Linked DNA regions of Homo sapiens: all the other regions are linked to region 1. Evidence: fine-mapped expression QTL. A gene starts in region 1. Each other region holds a variant in brackets. All regions are shown on one strand. Distances are from middle to middle. Region 1 holds the start of ODAD1 (outer dynein arm docking complex subunit 1). Region 2 overlaps TMEM143 (transmembrane protein 143). Region 3 has its middle 21 kb from the start of ZNF114-AS1.

The links. PIP is the estimated chance that this variant, and not a neighbour inherited with it, causes the effect.
Region 2: its variant is the best candidate, but not a certain one, in a credible set for the expression of ODAD1 in nucleus accumbens (GTEx, PIP 0.54).
Region 3: its variant is the best candidate, but not a certain one, in a credible set for the expression of ODAD1 in prefrontal cortex (BrainSeq, PIP 0.74).

The regions. Positions count from the first base shown.
Region 1 is chr19:48,319,919-48,325,794 of GRCh38, reverse strand. ODAD1 (outer dynein arm docking complex subunit 1) reads left to right here and starts at 3,824. Exons shown (of 16, transcript NM_001364171.2): 1 at 3,824-4,117; 2 at 4,984-5,023; 3 at 5,404-5,496. The coding sequence starts at 5,427. LOC124904735 (a long non-coding RNA gene) reads right to left here and starts at 4,327. Exons shown (of 2, transcript XR_007067284.1): 1 at 3,818-4,327; 2 at 2,273-3,005. It overlaps EMP3 (epithelial membrane protein 3 (MAM blood group)), which reads right to left and starts at 243. Exons shown (of 5, transcript NM_001425.3): 1 at 185-243. RefSeq lists enhancers at 3,320-3,379, 3,390-3,449, 3,669-3,963, 3,970-4,209, 5,489-5,783 and 1 more and silencers at 997-1,228, 3,560-3,849, 4,320-4,439.
Region 2 is chr19:48,341,109-48,347,582 of GRCh38, reverse strand. It overlaps TMEM143 (transmembrane protein 143), which reads left to right. Exons shown (of 8, transcript NM_018273.4): 4 at 2,229-2,423; 5 at 4,132-4,262; 6 at 4,774-5,053. Among named protein-coding and RNA genes, the nearest start is that of EMP3, 19 kb to the right of the region's middle. RefSeq lists enhancers at 4,425-4,925, 4,926-5,426. The variant C/T (reference allele first, on the strand shown) is at 3,042.
Region 3 is chr19:48,290,045-48,296,276 of GRCh38, reverse strand. No RefSeq gene overlaps it. Among named protein-coding and RNA genes, the nearest start is that of ZNF114-AS1, 21 kb to the right of the region's middle. RefSeq lists enhancers at 1-473, 474-975, 4,255-4,903, 5,021-5,070, 5,091-5,140. The variant A/G (reference allele first, on the strand shown) is at 2,893.

The DNA.
Region 1 (5,876 bases):
AAACTTTGCCGGGCCCCACCCCTTCCCATATCCCCACCTCAAGTGCTAAGAGATCACTTATTAAATTAAAAGGATTTCCAAGAGTCAGGGACGTCTCTCCCAGCCTGGGGGTGTCCTTCCCAAACTGCTACATTCCCAAGTAAATTAAGAAGTCCCAGCCCTGAATAACGGACTGGAAACTTACCGAGAGCCGCGAAAAAAGTCAGAGCTGGAGTCGGAGTCTTGTCCCTCGCTCGGGCCTCCGTGCCCCGCCCTTCTCCTCCCTCCTTTCACCCTCCCGAGGCCCCCGCCTCTCTCACCGCCTTCCTCCCTCCCTTGCTCTCCCCTCCAATCCAGAACCCTTTCTCTCTCGCTCGCTCTCCTTCTGCGTCTCTTCTCTCCCTCCTGCCCTCACTGTCTGGGCCTCCTTCTCTCTTGCTCCCGTTTCTCTTTCTCTCCTCCTCTCAATATATACTGACCCTTTTATAAACCCACCCTCACCGCACCCAGCTGAGGTCGGCTGCCAGTGGGAGGGCCCAGGCACTCCGGTTCCTCTTTCTTTGGGCCCCCACCCAATCCCTCCAGACAGACATCATCTGGGGCTCCCTCCCAGGGTTGAGATGAGAAACTCTTGGAATGGGGTTCTTGGGGGGGGCAAGCGTCAGGGGTGGGAGGGCCCGATTCTCAGGACCCTTGAGTTTTGAGGTCTTGCCCTGGGGCCGGATGTCTGCTTTCCCTGATGGAGCTTGGAGCTGGATAGGAGTCTGGGAAAAGAGGCCAGATTTCTGTGGCATGGACTTGAGATTGGGCTGGTGAAGTTGGCCCCGTGGTGGGGGGTCAGAGGATGGGAGATGAAATTTGTGAAACTCGGCAGGGCGTTGTGGCTCACGCCTGTAATCCCAGCACTTTGGGAGGCCGAGACGGGCAGATCATCTGAGGTCAGGAGTTCGAGACCAGCCTGGCCAACATGGTGGAAACCCGTCTCTATCAAAAATACAAAAATTAGCCGGGCGTGGTGGCGGGCGACTGTAATCCCAGCTACTTGGGAGGCTGAGCCATGAGAATCGCTTGAACGCGAGAGGTGGAGGCTGCAGTGAGTTGAGTTTGCACCACTGCCTTCCAACCTGGGGGACAAAGTGAGATTCTGTCGCAAAAAAAAAACAAAACAAAACAAAAAACAAACAAACAAAAAAAAAAACCTTGTGAAACTCTGGAAGCGGGGAGGAAGCGGAAGCTAAGAATCCCAGCGCCATCATTTCCTGGTTCAGTGACCTTGAGCCAATTATTTCACCCACCTGGGCTCCAGTATCTTAGTCTATGTTGAGAGTATAATAATGCTGACAAAATACTAATACTGATAATAATAATTCTGATACTTATGCTGAATGAATAAGGTAATACTGGCACACTCACACACCTAACCTGTTCCTTCCTTCATCAAACATTTATTGAACATGTACTCTGATCTGGGAGTTAATAATGAAAACAGACATGAGCCCTGCTGGTATTATGGAGCTTGTATTCTAGTAGAGGAAGACAGACAAGAGAAAACATCAATGATGAAGATAAATCTCAGATAAGGATAAGTGACTTGAAAAATAAATACAATAGGCTGGACGTGGTGGCTCATGCCTGTAATCTCAGCACTTTGGGAGGCCAAGGCTGGAGGATCACCTGAGGTCGAGAGTTCAAGACCAGCCTGGCCAACATGGTGAAACCCTGTCTCTACTAAAAATACAAAAATTAGCCAGGCATGGTAGTGGGCGCCTGTAACCCAGCTACTCAGGAGGCTGAGACAGGAGAATTGCTTGAACCCGGGAGGCGGAGGTTGCAGTAAGCTGAAATCACGCTACTGCACTCCATCCTGGGTGACAGAGCAAGACTCCATCTTAAAGAAAAAAAAAAATAAAAGAAGAAAAGAAAAATAAATACAATAATAAATCAAACAGAGTGATGGAGATAATGACAGAGTGCAGGGAAGACTACTTGAAACAGGAAAATCAGGGAAGGCCTCTTGGAGGAGGTAACATTTGAGCTGAAGACAGGAGTCATTTGAACGCTGGGGTTGGGGAGTGGTGGGGGGGCGTCGGGGGGAGAGGAAGTGCAAAAGCTCTTAAAGCTTTTGAGAACAAGCTCAGGTTGTTTAGGGAGCAGACAGAAGGGCCAGTGTGGCTGGAGCACAGGGAGACAGAGGGAGTGGTGAGAAGGGAAATCAAAGGGTGCCCTTGAAGACTAGGGGAGGGGCTTGGATTTCATTCTAAGTGCAGTGGAAAGCCATTAGGTTTTAACAGAGTGTAGTACCAAAGATTTTTATTTTTTTTTTGAGATGGAGTCTTGCTCTGTCATCCAGGCTGGAGTGCAGTGGCATGATCTCAGCTCACTGCAACCTCCACCTCCCGGTTCAAGCGATTCTCCTGCCTCAGCCTCCTGAGTAGCTGGGATTACAGGTGCCCGCCACCACGCCCAGCCAATTTTTGTATTTTTAGTAGAGACGGGGGTTTCTCCATGTTGGCCAGGCTGGCCTCGAACTCCTGACCTCCAGTGATCTGCCTGCCTTGGCCTCCCAAAATGATGGGATTACAGGCGTAAGACACTGTGCCTGGCCCCAAAGGTTTACTGTTAACTATTATTATTAATTTTGGGGATATTAAATTAGGGTCGGGGTGATGACTACTATGTACACGAGTCTCTTGGGAGGGGACCAGGTGCCCAGAACTCTGATAAATTGAGAGCAGGGGAATTCAAATCCTGGATCCAGGGAAGGGAACTGGATGATGGGATGTCTGGGTATCTGATGGGCCAGAGCTGGGTTTGGGATAGCTGTTGGTGATTCGGGCTCCCTGAGGGGGTGAGGGATGGACAGTTCAGTGCTTGGCTGGGTACCCCAAGACCTGGAAGCTGGAATACCAGTATAGCACAGACTCTAGAGCCACACTGGTTGGACTCAAAATCCAAGCTGTTTTACTCAATGGCTGTGTAATTTTTGGCAAGTTACTAATAACTTCTCTATGCCTCAGTCTCTTCATCTGAAAAATAGAGATAATAGTAAATACATTATAGGGCAGTTCTTAGGGTAGTGCTAGTCATATCAGGCATTGGGGCTCTGAGTGGAGTCAGTACTGGGGGACCCTGATTCAGGATCTCTAGGAGTTGGGGAAGGGGCAAATTCTTGGGTCCATTGGGTCTCAAGGCTAAAGTTGGGAATCCAAAATGAGGGTCCCTGGGGGAGAATAAGTAGTCTCAAACTTAAGTGCCTGAGAGACAGAAACTGGGGTCCGCACTCAGATCCCTAAGGAAGTTGCAAAGTCTGGGTCACTGAAGGAAAAATTAGGGGCTGGGGAGACATACGTTCCTCTTGGGGAGCAGGAAAAGAGGGCTCCACTTTCTTGAGAGGACTAGGGGGAGCCAGGGGCTAGGAAGATGGAAACTTGAGCCGGGGAGGTGAAAAACACGAGTCTAGGACTCAGAATCAAGTTCCCTGAGTGGGATCGGCGCCAGGCTTGGGTACCCTGGGGATATTAGGGGGGTCCCCGCACTATGGCTATGTAGAAGGGGAAGAATCAAAGGATCTGAGGGTGGCGGCGGGATCTCCCCATCCTGGGCCTCCGAGATTATGAGCTGAGCTGAGCGTACGCAGGCCGCTTCCTCCCACAGGAAACCGCAGGCTTCGGGCACACCCAGCCTGCAGGGAGAGGCGCCCACTGCCCGCCCGCCCGGGGAGGCCCACGTGGGCAGCAGCCGCCGCCGCGGAGGGGGCGTGCCTTACAGAGCGAGTGGGTGTAACCAGAGGGGGCGTGGCCAGAAACCGGGGGGCGGTATGGAGTGCCCGAGGTCTCACCCACTTCCGCCCTCCAGCGCGCGGACGTGGTAGGCGGCCAAGCGTTTTTGGCTGCTTCCCGGGAAGCCGTTGGTCGCGCTTGCGTAGTGAACCGCTGAGGCTGTGTTGAGCGCTCCTTCTCCGCGCAACTCCCGGCTTCGACACCGCCTTCCTTCCTATGAATCCTTAATTTAACGTGGTCACAGTCAGCTTAAGACCGGCACCTCTCGGGCTCCGTCTTGTAGGACCTCGGCCTGGCTTCGAGGGCTTCCATACAGGTCACCGCAGGCTCTTTCAACTCCCGCCGCTTCCAGGCCCGCGGTACTAGTGAGACCTCAGCCTCGACCTCCCCAGGACCATTTCGACCTCCCGCAGGCCTTCAAGGCCTGAGCGCCTCCCGATTAGCCCGCCCTTCACCGCCCTTCCACCGGGCCCCTCGTAAGGCCTTCCAAACGCGACCCTCGAAGCCCGCCCCTTACGGGGAAGCCCCTCCGCTCGCTGTCTGCGAAGCCCCGTCCTGTACTGGTGTCCGTGCCCCTCCCCTCGCCGGCCCCGAAGCCCCGCCCCTCGAAGTTCTTCCCACTCACTCTCCTCACAGGTCTCAGCCCCGCCCATCACAGCTCCCTACGGCACGCCCCTCTCAGGCCTCACAGCCGTGCACCTCTCAGGGCTCCGCAGCACCGCTCCACAGGCCCTCCCGGCTCCGCCCCTTTCAGGACCTCGCCGCCCATCAGTTTTGTTTGTTTGTTTGTTTGTTTTTTGAGACGGAGTCTCGCTCTGTCGCCCAGGCTGGAGTGCAGTGGCGGGATCTCGGCTCACTGCAACCTCCGCCTCCCGGGTTCAAGCGATTCTCCTGCCCCAGCCTCCTGAGTAGCTGGGATTACAGGCACGAGCCGCCATGTCCGGCTAATTTTTTGTACTTTTAGTAGAGACGGGGTTTCACCATGTTGGCCAGGTTGGTCTCGAACTCGTGACCTCAAGTGATGCGCCCGCCTCGGCCTCCCAAAATGCTGGGATTGCAGGCGTGAGCCACCGCGCCTGGCCTTGCCCATCAGTTCTCAGTCCGTGGGAACCCTGCAGGTCTACGCCTCGCATCCTTCTCCGCCCCTCCTCCCATAGTTTCTCCCGCGGCCTCAGTCCCTCCCTGGCCGCTGTCCTCAGTCCTCATTGGTCCCTTATCTCCCCAGTAACCAGACCACAACACTGAACTTGGAGCACCAAGAACAGGTCAGGCCCGTCGGCAGGTAGGGCCCAGGACTCCCCCGACCCTGCCCAACCCCCACTACAGCAGGCCGGGGTTTCCCCCTCTCCTGCGACCAAACAGCCTGGCCTCAGATATCCTGAGAGCCCAGGAGGCCTGTCCCCTGCCAAACCCGCGCCAGAATCGGAGCCTAGACGCAAGACCCAGAGTGTGAGAGGTGGGAGGGCTGGAGAGGTGTGGGAGAGGCCTGAGAGAGGTCCCCCTCCAACCCCTCTTGGAGGAATGAGGCCAGCGTGGTTCTAGGGTCACCCCCTTTCAATTCCCAGTCCCTCGCAGTTCATTGTCCACCCTCTCTGGGCCCTGGCCCGCCTGCTGTCTGAAGGGTCTTATATGTCCATCCCTACAGGAGCCCCACCCTGTTTGGCCAGGATGCCTTTGGGACGCTTGGCAGGGAGCGCCCGCTCCGAGGAGGGAAGCGAGGCATTTCTGGAGGGAATGGGTAATTCATTCATTCTTTATATCATTCACCCATTCTTTTCCAGCCCCCAGCTTTCCCAAGTTCCAGGTCCTGTAGGGAGGGAGGGAGAGTGTCTGTCCAGGAGCGCCCTCTGGTGGGAACAGACATGCGCCCTAAGGGAGGCGGGGCGGGCACCACGGTGGGTGGGCCAAGCCTGGGCAGTGGGGCAGGCTGGAGACTTCAGGCAGCAGAAGTTTGAGTGGGGCCCAGAACTCCCTGTAGGAATTGCCAAGGGGAGAAGGAAGGAAGGGTGTTTCTACAGAGATGACAGAATGTGGCTAGAGTAGGCTTTCTCAACCTTGGTACTGTTGACTCTTGGGGTGGGATAATTCTTTGTTGTGGGGGCAGTCCTGTGTGTCGTA
Region 2 (6,474 bases), 21 kb before region 1:
TCTGTCTCAAAAAAAAAAAAAAAAAAAAGTTTTGTAGAGACAGGATTTCACCGTGTTGCCAAGGCTGGTCTCAAACTCCTGGATTCAAGTGATCCTCCCACCTTGGCTTCCCAGAGTGTTGGGATTACAGGCGTGAGCCACTGTGCCGGCCTTTGAATCTCTTCTGCATCCCAGTCTCCTTGCTCAGTTGTTTCTGAGGCCCTGGGCTTCCCCATGACCAAACCTTCACTTAGGCCATTCCTCCCACTTGGAGAACCGGCCCTCTCTCCTTCCACTAATTCAGAATCGCACCTGGCCTGAACAAGCTGCTTCATAGGACCCCTGCTCCCAAGAGACACATGGAGGGTTAGGTTTATGATCTGGTTTTATAGAGGGGTGATTTCCTTGGAGGCTGTTGTAGAGTCTGGGACAAGTTATATGTCATCCTGAGACTCAGTCTCTCCGTGAGCAAAATAGGCTAGGCAACTGGAAACTCACGCGACATTCATTCCAAGAGTTTTTTAGGGGGGACGTTTAGGGACATAAGATGAGGCAGGCAGGTTAGATGCCAGTTTGTGAGGGAACTTGAACATCACGGAAAGCTTCTAGATTTTATTCTAAATACAGTGGGAAGCTGTTGGAGGGGTGGATTGTGGGAGCTGTTTACAGCCTCAGTAAGTTCTTCCCAATGGCCATGTGGATACTGGTTGAAAAGTAGCAAGAGTAGGCCAGGTGCGATGGCTCACGCCTGTAATCCCACCACTTTGGGAGACTGAGGTGGGGGGATCGCTTGAGGTCAGGAGTTCGAGACCAGCCTGGCCAACATGGTGAAACCTCATCTCCACTAAAAATACAAAAATTAGCCAGGCGTGGTGGTGGGCACCTGTAGTCCCAGCTACTCGGGAGGCTGAGGCAGGAGAATCACTTAAACCTAGGAGGTGGAGATTGCAGTGAGCTGAGATCATGCCATTGCACTCCACCCTGGGCAACAGAGTGAGACTCTGTCTCAAAAAAATAAATAAATAAAAAGAAAGTAGTAAGAGTAAAAGTTGGGGAACAGAAGCCCTACATAATTGTTTAAGTGAGAGATGAAGGTGGCTTCAGTGAGAAGATAGCAGCAAAGGAGATAGAGAGGAGGGTGGATTCAAGAAGATTCAGGGGTTTAGCAAGTGAACTTGCCAGAGGATTGGATATGGGTGTGATAAGAAAAGAATCTGCTGGGCACAGTGGCTCATGTCTGTAATCTCACTTTGGGAGGCCGAGGTGGTTGCATCACTTGAGGTCAGGAATTCGAGTCCAGCCTGGCCAACATAGTGAAACCCCATCTCCACTAAAAATATAAAAATTAGCTGAATGTGGTGGCATGTGTCTGTAATCCCAGCTACTCAGGAGGCTGAGGCAGGAGAACTGCTTGAACCTGGGAGGTGGAGGTTGCAGTGAGCTGAGATTGCACCACTGTACTCCAGCCTGGGTGACAGAGCGAGACTCCATCTCAAAAAAAAGAGAAAGAAAAAGAAAAAAGGGCTGAGCAAGGTGGCTCATGCCTGTAATCCCAGCACTTTGGGAGGCCGAGGTGGGTAGATCACATGTCAGGAGTTCGAGACCAGCCTGACCAACATGGTGAAACCCCTTCTCTACTAAAAATACAAAAATTAACCGGGCATGGTGGCGTGCATCTGTAATCCCAGCTACTCAGGAGGCTGAGACAGGAGAATCGCTTGAACCCAGGAGGTGGAGGTTGCAGTGAGCTGAGATTGTGCCACTGCACTCCAGCCTGGGCGACAGAGCGAGACTCCGTCTCAAAAAAACAAAAACAAAACACAAAAAAACACAGGCCGGGCACGGTGGCTTATGCCTGTAATCTTAGCACTTTGGGAGGCCGAGGCGGGCATATTGCCTGAGCTCAGGAGTTCAAGACCAGCCTGGGCAACACAGTGAAACCTCATCTCTATTAAAATACAAAAAATATATATATATATTACCCGGGCATGGTGGCGTGCGCCTGTAGTCCCAGCTACTTGGGAGGCTGAGGCAGGAGAATTGCTTGAACCCGGGAGGTGGAGGTTGCAGTGAGCGGAGAACGTGACACTGCACTCCAGCCTGGCAACAGAGCGAGACTCTATCTCAATAAAATAAATAAATAAATAAATAAATAAATGAAAGTATCTGGAGAGGGATGTCCTTAGATGTCCCTAGAATCCTTCATGCAGAGACCTATCCCATCTTTTTCTCTCTGACTCTCCTCTTAGGCCTTATATGACCCCATCAACCCTGACAGGGAGACCCTCGATCAGCCATCACTAACGGATCCCCAGCGTCTGTCTAATGAGCAGGAGGTGCTTCGGGCTCTGGAGCCCCTGCTGGCCCAGGCCAACTTCTCCCCGCTGTCTGAGGACACCCTGGCCTACGCGCTGGTGGTCCACCACCCTCAGGATGAGGTCCAGGTACTTGGCTCCCTAGGAGAACAAAACTCCCAGGAGGCCTCTAGGGTGGGGCAGAGCCTCTGAGAGGCATGGGCTGCTGGGAGTTGTAGTCCTGAGCCTGGGACTGTGGCCCATATGGCGCACTTGGTGAACTCAGAGAAGGGGCTACTTTTGGCTGGATGCAGTGGCTCAAGCCTGTAATCCCAGCAGTTTGGGGGTCCAAGGTGGGTGGATCACCTGAGGTCAAGAGTTCAAGACCAGCCTGGCCAACATGGTGAAACCCCATCTCTACTAAAAATATAAAAAATTATCCAGGCATGGTGGCAGGTGCCTGTAATCCCAGCTACTGGGGAGGCTAAGGCAGGAGAATCTCTTGAACCCGGGAGGTGGAAGTTGCAGTGAGCTGAGATCGTGCCATTGCACTCCAGCCTGGGCAACAAGAGTGAAACTCCATCTGGAAAAAAAAAGGAGGTGCTGCTGTCTCAGGTCACTTCACTGCCATCTGTTGGAAAAGTATCATATGATATGGCTCTCTTAGGGCAAGAGACTTAGCACCATCTGCCAAAATTGTAATAATAAATAATATAATACAAGGCCGGGTTCAGTGGCTCATTCCTGTAATCCCAGCATTCAGGAGGC[C/T]GAGGCAGGAGGATCGCTCGAGCCCAGGAGTTCCGGACTCATCTAGGCGACACAGGGAGACCCCGTCTCTACAGAAAATACAAAAATTAGTTGGATATGGTGGTGCGGGCCTGCAGTCCCAGCTACTCGGGAGGCTGAGGTGGGAGGATCATTTGATCCCAGGAGTTTAAGGCTGCAGTGAGCTGTCAGCCATGATCTTGCCACTGCACTCCAGCCTGGATGACAAATTGAGAACCTGTCTCAAAAAAACAAAACAAAACACACACACACAGAGAGACACATTAAAAAAGAAAAAAAAAACCAAGCCCCTAAAAGCACGCAAAATGCTAACAAAATTATAAGAAATACTAAAATCAGCTGGGTGCAGTGGCTCACACCTATAATCCCAGTGCTTTGGGAGGCTGAGGTAGGCAGATCATTTGAGGTCAGGAGTTTGAGACTAGCCTGGCCAACATGGTGAAACCCCATCTCTACTAAAAATACAAAAATTAGCCAGGCATGGTGGCGGGTGCCTGTAGTCCCAGCTACTTGGGAGGCTGAGGCACGAGAATCACTTGGACCCAGGAGGTGGAGGCTGCAGTGAGCTGAGATTGTGCCACTGCACTCCCGCCTGGGTGACAGAGTGAGACAATATCTCAAAATAGAAATAAAAATAAAAACAGAAATAAAAAATACTAAAATCTCCCCAAATTCCACATTTTAGTGATTTTAAACTGCAGTTTTTCCAAAGTCATGTTTTGTCATCTCTGAAATTGGGATGTAATTTACAGGTGGTGGTGTGACATCATTTAATTGGCAACGTATTTTGTTTTTAGTTGCTTCATAAAATAATCAGGTAGAGTCAGTGGCACCTTAGATTCTAGGAAATATGGTAAAGATGACTTCTACGTGAATGGCACTGTGTTAGATCATGAGCCCTTGTGCAGTATACGACATGGACAACCATATGTGACAGCCCTGCCTAGATGGTGAATGGGGATAAGTGGGAAACGGGGGAATTATTTAGGGGCAGGACATCTGATTCTGGTATCCTGCCCTCAACACTCCTGCCCATGTTCACCCGCCACTGCTTCCTTCATCCCCCCGGCAGGTGACAGTAAATTTGGATCAGTATGTCTACATTCACTTCTGGGCCCTGGGCCAGCGAGTCGGGCAGATGCCCCTGAAGTCCAGCGTGGGCTCCAGGCGTGGCTTCTTCACCAAGCTGCCCCCTGCGGAGAGGTGAGGCGGCCCTTGTTCCCCAGCTGCAGCAAGAGGGAGCAAGGTTAGAGTCAAGAGGGGACTGACAGGTCAGTGTCTGGTTTGGGTGTCTGGGCCCCAGGCGGGAAGTTGAGAAATGGGAGGCGTGACTCATCCAAATGCTGTCTTTTCTTCTCAAGGGAAAGTGAGTACTACACTTGATTCCCAGGGGAAGAGAAAGGATGGGGACAGTTCTCCCCATTTTCCAATAAGGAAAACTGAGGCTCGGAGAGGGAGGTCCACATTCTGAAGATGCGGCACGGCCAGGATTCCAACAAACAATCTGCACGTCCAATACCAGGGATCGATGGCGCGATTGAACCGATCCCCTGTGGTTGGACACAGCTGATCCCTGGTTTCTTCCCCATGATTACTGAGTCGCTTTTAAGATGGTTGTGCGACTGTAGAGCCAGAGTGAGCGTCCTAGGATTGGAGGGGGCTCCCCGGGCAGTGCAGTCCCGATCCTGCTCCTGCCTCTGTCTCTGTCCCTCAGGAGATACTTTAAGCGGGTGGTCCTGGCAGCCCGGACCAAACGGGGACACCTGGTACTGAAGAGTTTCAAGGACACGCCGCTGGAAGGCCTGGAGCAGCTGCTGCCGGAGCTGAAGGTGCGCACGCCCACCCTGCAGCGCGCCCTGCTCAACCTCATGCTGGTAGTCTCCGGCGTGGCGATCTTCGTCAACGTGGGCATGGTGGTGCTAACCGACCTCAAGGTGGCCACCTCCCTGCTGCTGCTGCTCTTCGCCATCTTCATGGGCCTGCGGGCCTCCAAGGTGAGCATGCGCCTGCCACGCCTCCTGCGGCCCTGCGCTGTGGGGACCAGGTCAGGCCCCCTGTAGTTGTCTCTGTTTCATGCATTGTTCCTGCGTCATGCTCTCCTCCCTCCCTCCCTCCCTTCCTTCCTTCCCATTCTTCCTCTTTTCTTTCCCTTCCCTTCCCTCCCTGTCCTTCCTTCCTTCCCATTCTTCCTCTTTTCTTTCCCTTCCCTTCCCTCCCTGTCCTTCCTTCCTTCCTCCCTCCCTTCCTCCCTTCTTTCCTTTCTCCCTCTCTCTCCTCCCCTTCCTTTTCCCCTTTCCCTTCCCTTCCTTCTTCCCCTTCCTTCCGCCTCCCCTCCTCTCCCCTCCCCTCCCCTTCCCCTCCCTCCCTCCCTTCCTTCCTGTTCCTCTTTTCCTTCCCTTCCCTCCCTCTCCCCACCTCCTTCCTCCCCCCTTCCCTTTCTCCCTTCCCTCCCTTCTTGCCCTCTCCTCCGCTCCCCTCCCTTCCCCTTCCCTTCCCTACTTCATTTACTCAACACCCCTTAGGGGGGTTTCTTAATCTCTCTGAGCCTCAGTTTTCTCATCTGGAAAATGGGGATGATAGCGAGATCTGCCTTGTAGGGTTGTGAGCATGAAATGAGTGAGTCTGTGAGAAGCACTGGGCAGTGCTCGGCTCGTGGTAGGGGCTACATAAGGGTTGACAGCCGCTCACTGAGTGCCGGCTTTAGGGGCGCTTTAGTGATGCGGTGAAGGGGGTGTGTTCTGGAAGCAGACTTCCTGGATTTGAATCTGACTCTACTCTCTTCTCGCTGTGTGATCTTGAACAAGTTGCTTAACCTCTCTGTGTCTCAGCTTCAAAATCTGCAAAGTAGGGATGATGGTGGGACCTAACTCATAGAGGTGTTGTGGGGATTAAATGAATTAACATGCACAGTGCTGAGAATAGAGCCTCCCACATGGCACAGGAGGTGCTATGTGAGAGTTAGCTATTACCAGGATGATGATTATTATCATTACTAATTGGGCTGTTTGTTCCAAGTCCCCATCCTGACTGGGTATCATTATCACTGGGGGAGCTGGCTGACAAATGCAGCCTCCTGGGCTCCAGTCCTAGTGGACTGAATTGGAAACTCTGGGACTGGGGCCCAGGGAACTATATTTTTAACAAGCTCCCTTTTGATTCTGCTACATGTGAGTGCCGGGCTGCCTTGAACAGTTGCACAGGTTGTTCACCATCCAAGGATTCGTGGCCCAGGGGCCAGGTGGAGGCTGACACCCAACTTGTGCTCCGCTTGCCAAAATGCGTGTCCTGTCTCGAGGCTGAGTCAGCCCAGAGGGGAGCTGCCTTTTACTGATTCTTCCCAGGGTTGGCACCGGCCCCAGGAGTGTAGACTGGTGTGAAGCATCTGTCGTACGCGATCATTCACCTGCTGGCTCAT
Region 3 (6,232 bases), 30 kb after region 1:
TACAGTGTCACGTTCTCGGCTCACTGCAACCTCCGCCTCCTGGGTTCAAGTGATTCTCCTGCCTCAGCCTCCCGAGTAGCTGGGATTACAGGTGCCCACTACCACGCCCGGCTAATTTTTGTATTTTTAGTCGAGATGGGGTTTCACCATGTTGGCCAGGCTGGTCTTGAACTCCTGACCTCAGGTGATCTGCCCACCTCAGCCTCCCAAAATGCTGGGATTACAGGCGTGAGCCACCGCACCCAGCCTATTCATCCATTTCTCTGAGATCCACGTGTCTGGCTCTCTTGGAGCTATGTTGGTCAGGGCAGGCTGGGCTGTGCTGCAGTCACAGCTGCAGATTCTCTGTGGTCCTCAGGCAGCAGAGTTTTCTCTCCTTTGTGGGCCAGCTGAGCGCTCCGCTCCATATCACTCGTGTACCCCGGGCCCATGGCACAGCCATCACTGGAGTGCTGCCAGTCCTTTGGCACGGGAAGAAGAGAGGATGGCACAGCAGGCAGTGACTCTCGAGGCTTGGACCTGATATGACACCTGTCCTCTTAGCTCACACTCAGCCAGAGCGGGTCAGCAGGTTACGCCGAACTTCAAAGGGTCGCCGGGAAGCGCAGTCTTTTCATGTGCCTGGAAGGAGAGAAAGGAAGGATTATTTATGGACAGCCCTAACTCCAGCCACAGGGTCACAGAGAAAAAGCTGACTTTGGCCCTTTCCTGCAGCGGGGGTGGGTGTAGGAGTGAGAGGGCTTAGAACACCTTGATAACTCTTTCCTGTAGTTGAGTCATGCCAAATGCCCTGTCAAAATTTAATCCATTGGTATCAAAGCTATATAAAAACTTCTAAAAATTCAGGCTGGGCGTGGTGGCTCACGCCTGTAATCCCAGCACTTTGGGAGGCCGAGGTGGGTGGATCACTTGAGCCCAGGAGTTCAAGACCAGCCTGGTGAACATGCGAAACCCTGTCTCGACTAAAAATACAAAAATTAGCAGAGCATGGTGATGTGCACCTGTCTTCCCAACTACTCGGGAGGCTGAGGCACAAGAATTGCTTGAATCTGGGAAGCGGAGGTTGCAGTGAGCCGAGATCATGGTACTGCACTCCAGCCTGGTTAATAGAGTGAGAGTGTCTCAAAAAAAAAAAAAAGTTCAAATCCAAACAGATAATCTATCATCCACCTTCCTAATCCAGGTAGCACCCTGAGCCTCCCCTTAAAATGGCTTGATCATAGTGCATACTTTTTTGTGTGAGAATAAGATGAATTTATACACAAAGCCTTAGAACAGTGGCTGGGCGTGGTGGCTCACGCCTGTAATCCCAGCACTTTGGGAGGCCAAGGTTGGCGGATCACCTGAGGTCAGGAGTTCAAGATCAGCCTGGCCAACATGGTGAAACCCCGTCTCTACTAAAAATACAAAAATTAGTCGGGTGTGGTGGCACATGCCTATAATCTCACCTATTCCGGAGGCTGAGGCAGGAGAATCTCTTGAACCTGGGAGGCGGAGGTTGCAGGGAGCCGAGACCATGACACTGCACTCCAGCCTGGGAGACAAGAGTGAAGCTGTATCTCAGAAAATAAATAAATTAATAAATAAAATGGCTTGATAATAGTACATACTTGTTTGTGTGAGAATAAAATGAACTGATACACAGAAAGCCTCAGAACAGTACCTGGCAAGTAGTAAATGCTCAGAACTACATGTGACTATTAGCAGGACAGCGATAAAGATGGAAAGGAGTGTAGTGTTTTCTTTCTATTTATTTATTTATTTATTTATTTTTGAGACGGAGTCTCGCTCTGTCGCCCAGGCTGGAGTGCAGTGGCACAATCTCAGCTCACTGCAATCTCCGCCTCCTGGGTTCAAGCAGTTCTCCTGCCTCAGCCTCCCAAGTAGCTGGGATTACAGGCACCTGCCACCATGCCTGGCTAATTTTTTTTTTTTGTATTTGAGATGGGGGTTTCACCGTGTTGGCCAGGCTGGTCTCGAACCCCTGACCTCAAGTGTGCTCCTACCTCGACCTCCCAAAGTGCTGGGAATACAGGCGTGAGCCACTGAGTCTGGCCTGTGTTCAGCAATATTTGAGCCATTTTTCCTTACAGAAAGAGAAATACTTATTTTTGTGTTTTAAATAAAACTGGTGTAGGAAAGTTAAAAAAAAAAAAAAAGAACTCTATTTCTCCCCTTACAGCTGCACAGGAGGGGACATCCACATATCTTTTCTCATTAATTTGATAAATATTTATTGAGCATGTACTATGTGCCATATATTGTACTAGGTTCTGGGGATGGAAGAGTAAAGGAGAAATTTGAAAATGGCATTTCAGGAGGGAGGTGGAAAGGCAGCTCCTCTGAGGCGTGGCTCCTGGCAGTGGAACTGCTATTCTTCCTCCCTGGGGGCCCAGGAAGTCTCATCTTGGTGTGGAGCTGAGTCGTGACCACCAGCCCTATCTCCCATTTCGGAGCGATTTCCTCCTCTTTCCTTCCAAAGATAGCAGAGTAAGCACAGCAGACCGAGCCTTCTGATTTGCTGCCCCTGCAAAGCGGCCTCATAGACCACCACAGTGCGATGGACTCAGGCTAACCACAGCTCTCTGTCACCTCAAGGGTCCTAGTCCTACAATGAGCAGGTTCACTTCCTCTACCTTCCCCTGGACTGGGGCTGGGCTCGCCACTTTTAGATGGTCAACCCTGCAGCACCCAGCGCAGAATACATCGAAGGCCACTTTAGAGACACCTGAGAATTCAACCTAGATTTTTGATTTTTTATTTTTTTGAGACAGGGTCTTGCTCTGTTGCCCAGGCTGGAGTGCAGTGGTGCAATCTTGGCTCACTCCAGCCTCCACCTCCCAGGTTCAAGTGATTCTCATGCCTCAGCCTCCTGAGCAGCTGGGACTACAG[A/G]TGTGTGCCACCACGCCCGGCTAATTTTTGTATTTTTTGTAGAGATGGAGGTTTCACCATGTTGGCCAGGCTGGTCTCGAACTCCTGGCCTCCAGTGATCCTCCCGCCTTGGCCTCCCAAAGTGAAAAAGACATTTTAAAGTTTGACCTCTGGAATGCCTTATGCTACAGCCTAAGAGAACAGCAGGTGAGTGCAGCTCAATCTTATCAGCCAAAGTGGAGGAAGGATGAATTAAATTGTACTCAATAGCAGTGAAATTACGGGTATTTAATCATTTTCCTCCTCCAGGAGTGAGGCAGAAACAGGCACTGCCACATCCAGGCTGTGTGGTCTTGGGCCAGTGTCTTCAGCATCCTGAGCTGTTACTCATCCTGACATCAGAGCTGGCAGCGAATCCTGGAGGCAGCTTTGTGTGGTGGGGAAGGCTCACTGGGAGGTAGCGTGGGTGTAACCGGTTCCTCATCATAATCTCTGTCAAGTGAAAAAACATGGGGATAATCTAGAACAGTGGAAAACCCTATCCCAGACCCTTAGAGAGTCAGGAAACCATTTTAAGGTGACCTGACCAGCATTTAAAAATAGGAATAGGCCGGGCCTGGTGGCTCATGCCTGTAATCACAGCACCTTGGGGGGCTGAGGCAGGCGGATCACCTGAGGACAGGAGTTCGAGACCAGCCTGGCCAACATGGTGAAACCCCGTCTTTACTAAAAATGCAAAAATTAGCTGGGCATGATGGCGGGAGCCTGTAATCCCAGCTACTCAGGAGGCTGAGGGAGGCTGAGGCAGGAGGATTGCTTGAACCTGGGGGACAGAGGTTGCAGTGAGCCGAGATCATGCCTGGGTGATAGAGTGACACTCTGTCTCAAAAAAAAAAAAGGAATAGAGTGGAATATAAAGCATCGTGTAATACAGGGCCGTGTAATACAGGGTGGTATTTTTAAAACTAAAATTTTCTTTTTTTTGAGACGGAGTCTCGCCCTGTCACCCAGGCTGGAGTGCAGTGGCGCGATCTCGGCTCACTGTAACCTCTGCCTCCCGGGTTAAAGTAGTTCTTTGCCTCAGCCTCCCTAGTAGCTGGGATTACAGGTGCCCGCCACCATACCTAGCAAATTTTTTTTTTTTTTTTTTTTTAAGTAGAGATGGGGTTTCACCATCTTGGCCAGACTGGTCTGGGACTCCTGACCTGGTGATCCACCCACCTCGGCCTCCCAAAGTGCTGGGATTACAGGCATGAGCCACTGCAGCCGGCCTAAATTTTGTTTTTAATTGTACATATTTATAGGATGCGGCGTGATGTTTTGATACATATATAAATTGTGCAGTGATCAAATCAAGGTTATTAGCAAATCCATCATCCCAGATGCTTGCCATTTCTTTGCGGTGAAACATGCAAAATGTTCTAGCTATTTTGAAGTATACAATCCATTGTTGTTGGCTATAGAGGGTGGTATTCTTTTGTAAAAGTATGCTGATGCGGCCAGGCACGGTGGCTCATGCCTGCAATCCCAGCACTTTGGGAGGCCGAGGCGGGCAGATCACTTGAGGCCAGGAATTCGAGACCAGCCTGGCTAACATTGTAAAACCCCATCTCTACTAAAAATAAAAAATTAGCCAGGCGCGGTGACGGGCGCCTGTAATCTCAGCTACTCAGGAGGCTGAGGCAGGAGAATCGCTTGAACCCTGGAAGTGGAGTTTGCAGTGAGCCGAGATCGTGCCACTGCATTCCAACCTGGGCAACAGAGCAAGACCTTGTCTCAAAAAAAAAAAAAAAAAAATGCTGACGCAAAATGATTTCTTACTGTGCGTCAGAATTTTGGAAGCCACTGGTAGACAGTCCTTAGTTTCACACAATGATTTTCAGACAACTGCCCATTCGCCAATTCCAACCACCTCGGCCCACTGCCCAAATCCAACGTTTCTGGTCTCCGGGCGGCGCTGCCTTAGCAGGATCCGCCGCCAGGTGGCGCGCTCCCCCCGCCCGGAGTGGGTTTTGTTCCATCCCGGACTTAGATCTTCCAAGACGGCGATTTCCTTCTGGTCGGGTCTCTTCCCGAGGATCCGCTTTACTCGTACTAGAAACTCTGACCTCGAATGCAGTTCCAGAAGCAGAACCCTGTAGGGGGTTTCAGGCGGCCAAGAAGGGAAGTGGTTCTCCTAAGACCGTCCCGGCTTCAGTCCACGGCGCTCACTAAATGCCTCCCACGCCAGACGAGGTCCCCCGTCCCCGGAGCTCGCGTCCCAGAGGTGAGGACACACACGAACCCTCCTGCCCGAATTCGCGACCCCGTCAGTGCAGGGAGGCTCTGGCCTGGGGCTGAAGAGCCGAGTCTCTGGTGCCTGACAGCACGGGGTCGAGCCCCTCCCGGCCACCTGCTGGCTGTGTGATCTTGGGCATCGTGCTTGGCCTCGCTGTGCCTCAGTTCCCCCCACTGTAAAATGGTAGTGATAACAGCAGCCACTTCATAGCGTTGCAGGCGTTGCATGAGTTAATAGGTGCAAAGCGCTCAGAAGGGGGCCTGGCGTATGTTTGCCAAAACGATTGTTGAAAATTCTCAGTTTACATCTGTGAGAATTGAGGACCAGTTGGGGGTAGAGGGTGGGGAATCCCCAAAGTCGGCTAAGTTCAGCCTCAGCGACTGGAGGCGGGAGGGGTGTTCCCTCAGCTACAGATGTTTCCCCCCTCCCGCCCCGGCCCCCTCCACCCCCGGTTGAATCCAGGGATTCTGATTTCAGCCATGGTCCTTTTCCTCCGCACAGCGCTCCCTGGGGGTGGGAGTGGACCCAGGCCCCTTGGCAAGGTCTGGGACTGTCCTGGCATAGCAGCCTCCCCTCCTCCTCTTCATTCCTTCCAGGATGGGGAGGGCCATGAGTCACCCAGATTCTAGGATAAAGCAGCAGATTGCTGGGAAACGCAGGCAGCAGGGGTCCGGGAGAAAGGGCCAAGCTTGAGCCCCCTCAGCCACAGTGGGGGTCCCTGACCTGCAGGTCTTCCCCAAACACTGAAAGCTGAACTTAACAGTGCTGGGGCCATGCAGAATGCGCGCCTAGGAGGACCTCTGCTCTTACCAGTGGCGTTTCTCTTTTCTTTTCCTTTTTTTTTGGAGACGAAATCTCGCTCCGTCGCCCAGACGGGAGTGCAGTGGCGCAGTCTCAGCTCACTGCAACCGCTGCCTCCCTTGTTCAAGTGATTCTCCTGCCTCAGCCTCCCAAGTAGCTGGGATTACAGATGTCTGCACCATGCCTGGCTAAGTTTTGTATTTTTAGTAGAGATGGGGTTTCGCCATGTTGGCCAGGCTGGTCCCGAACTCCTGACCTCAAGTGATCCACCCACCCCGGCCT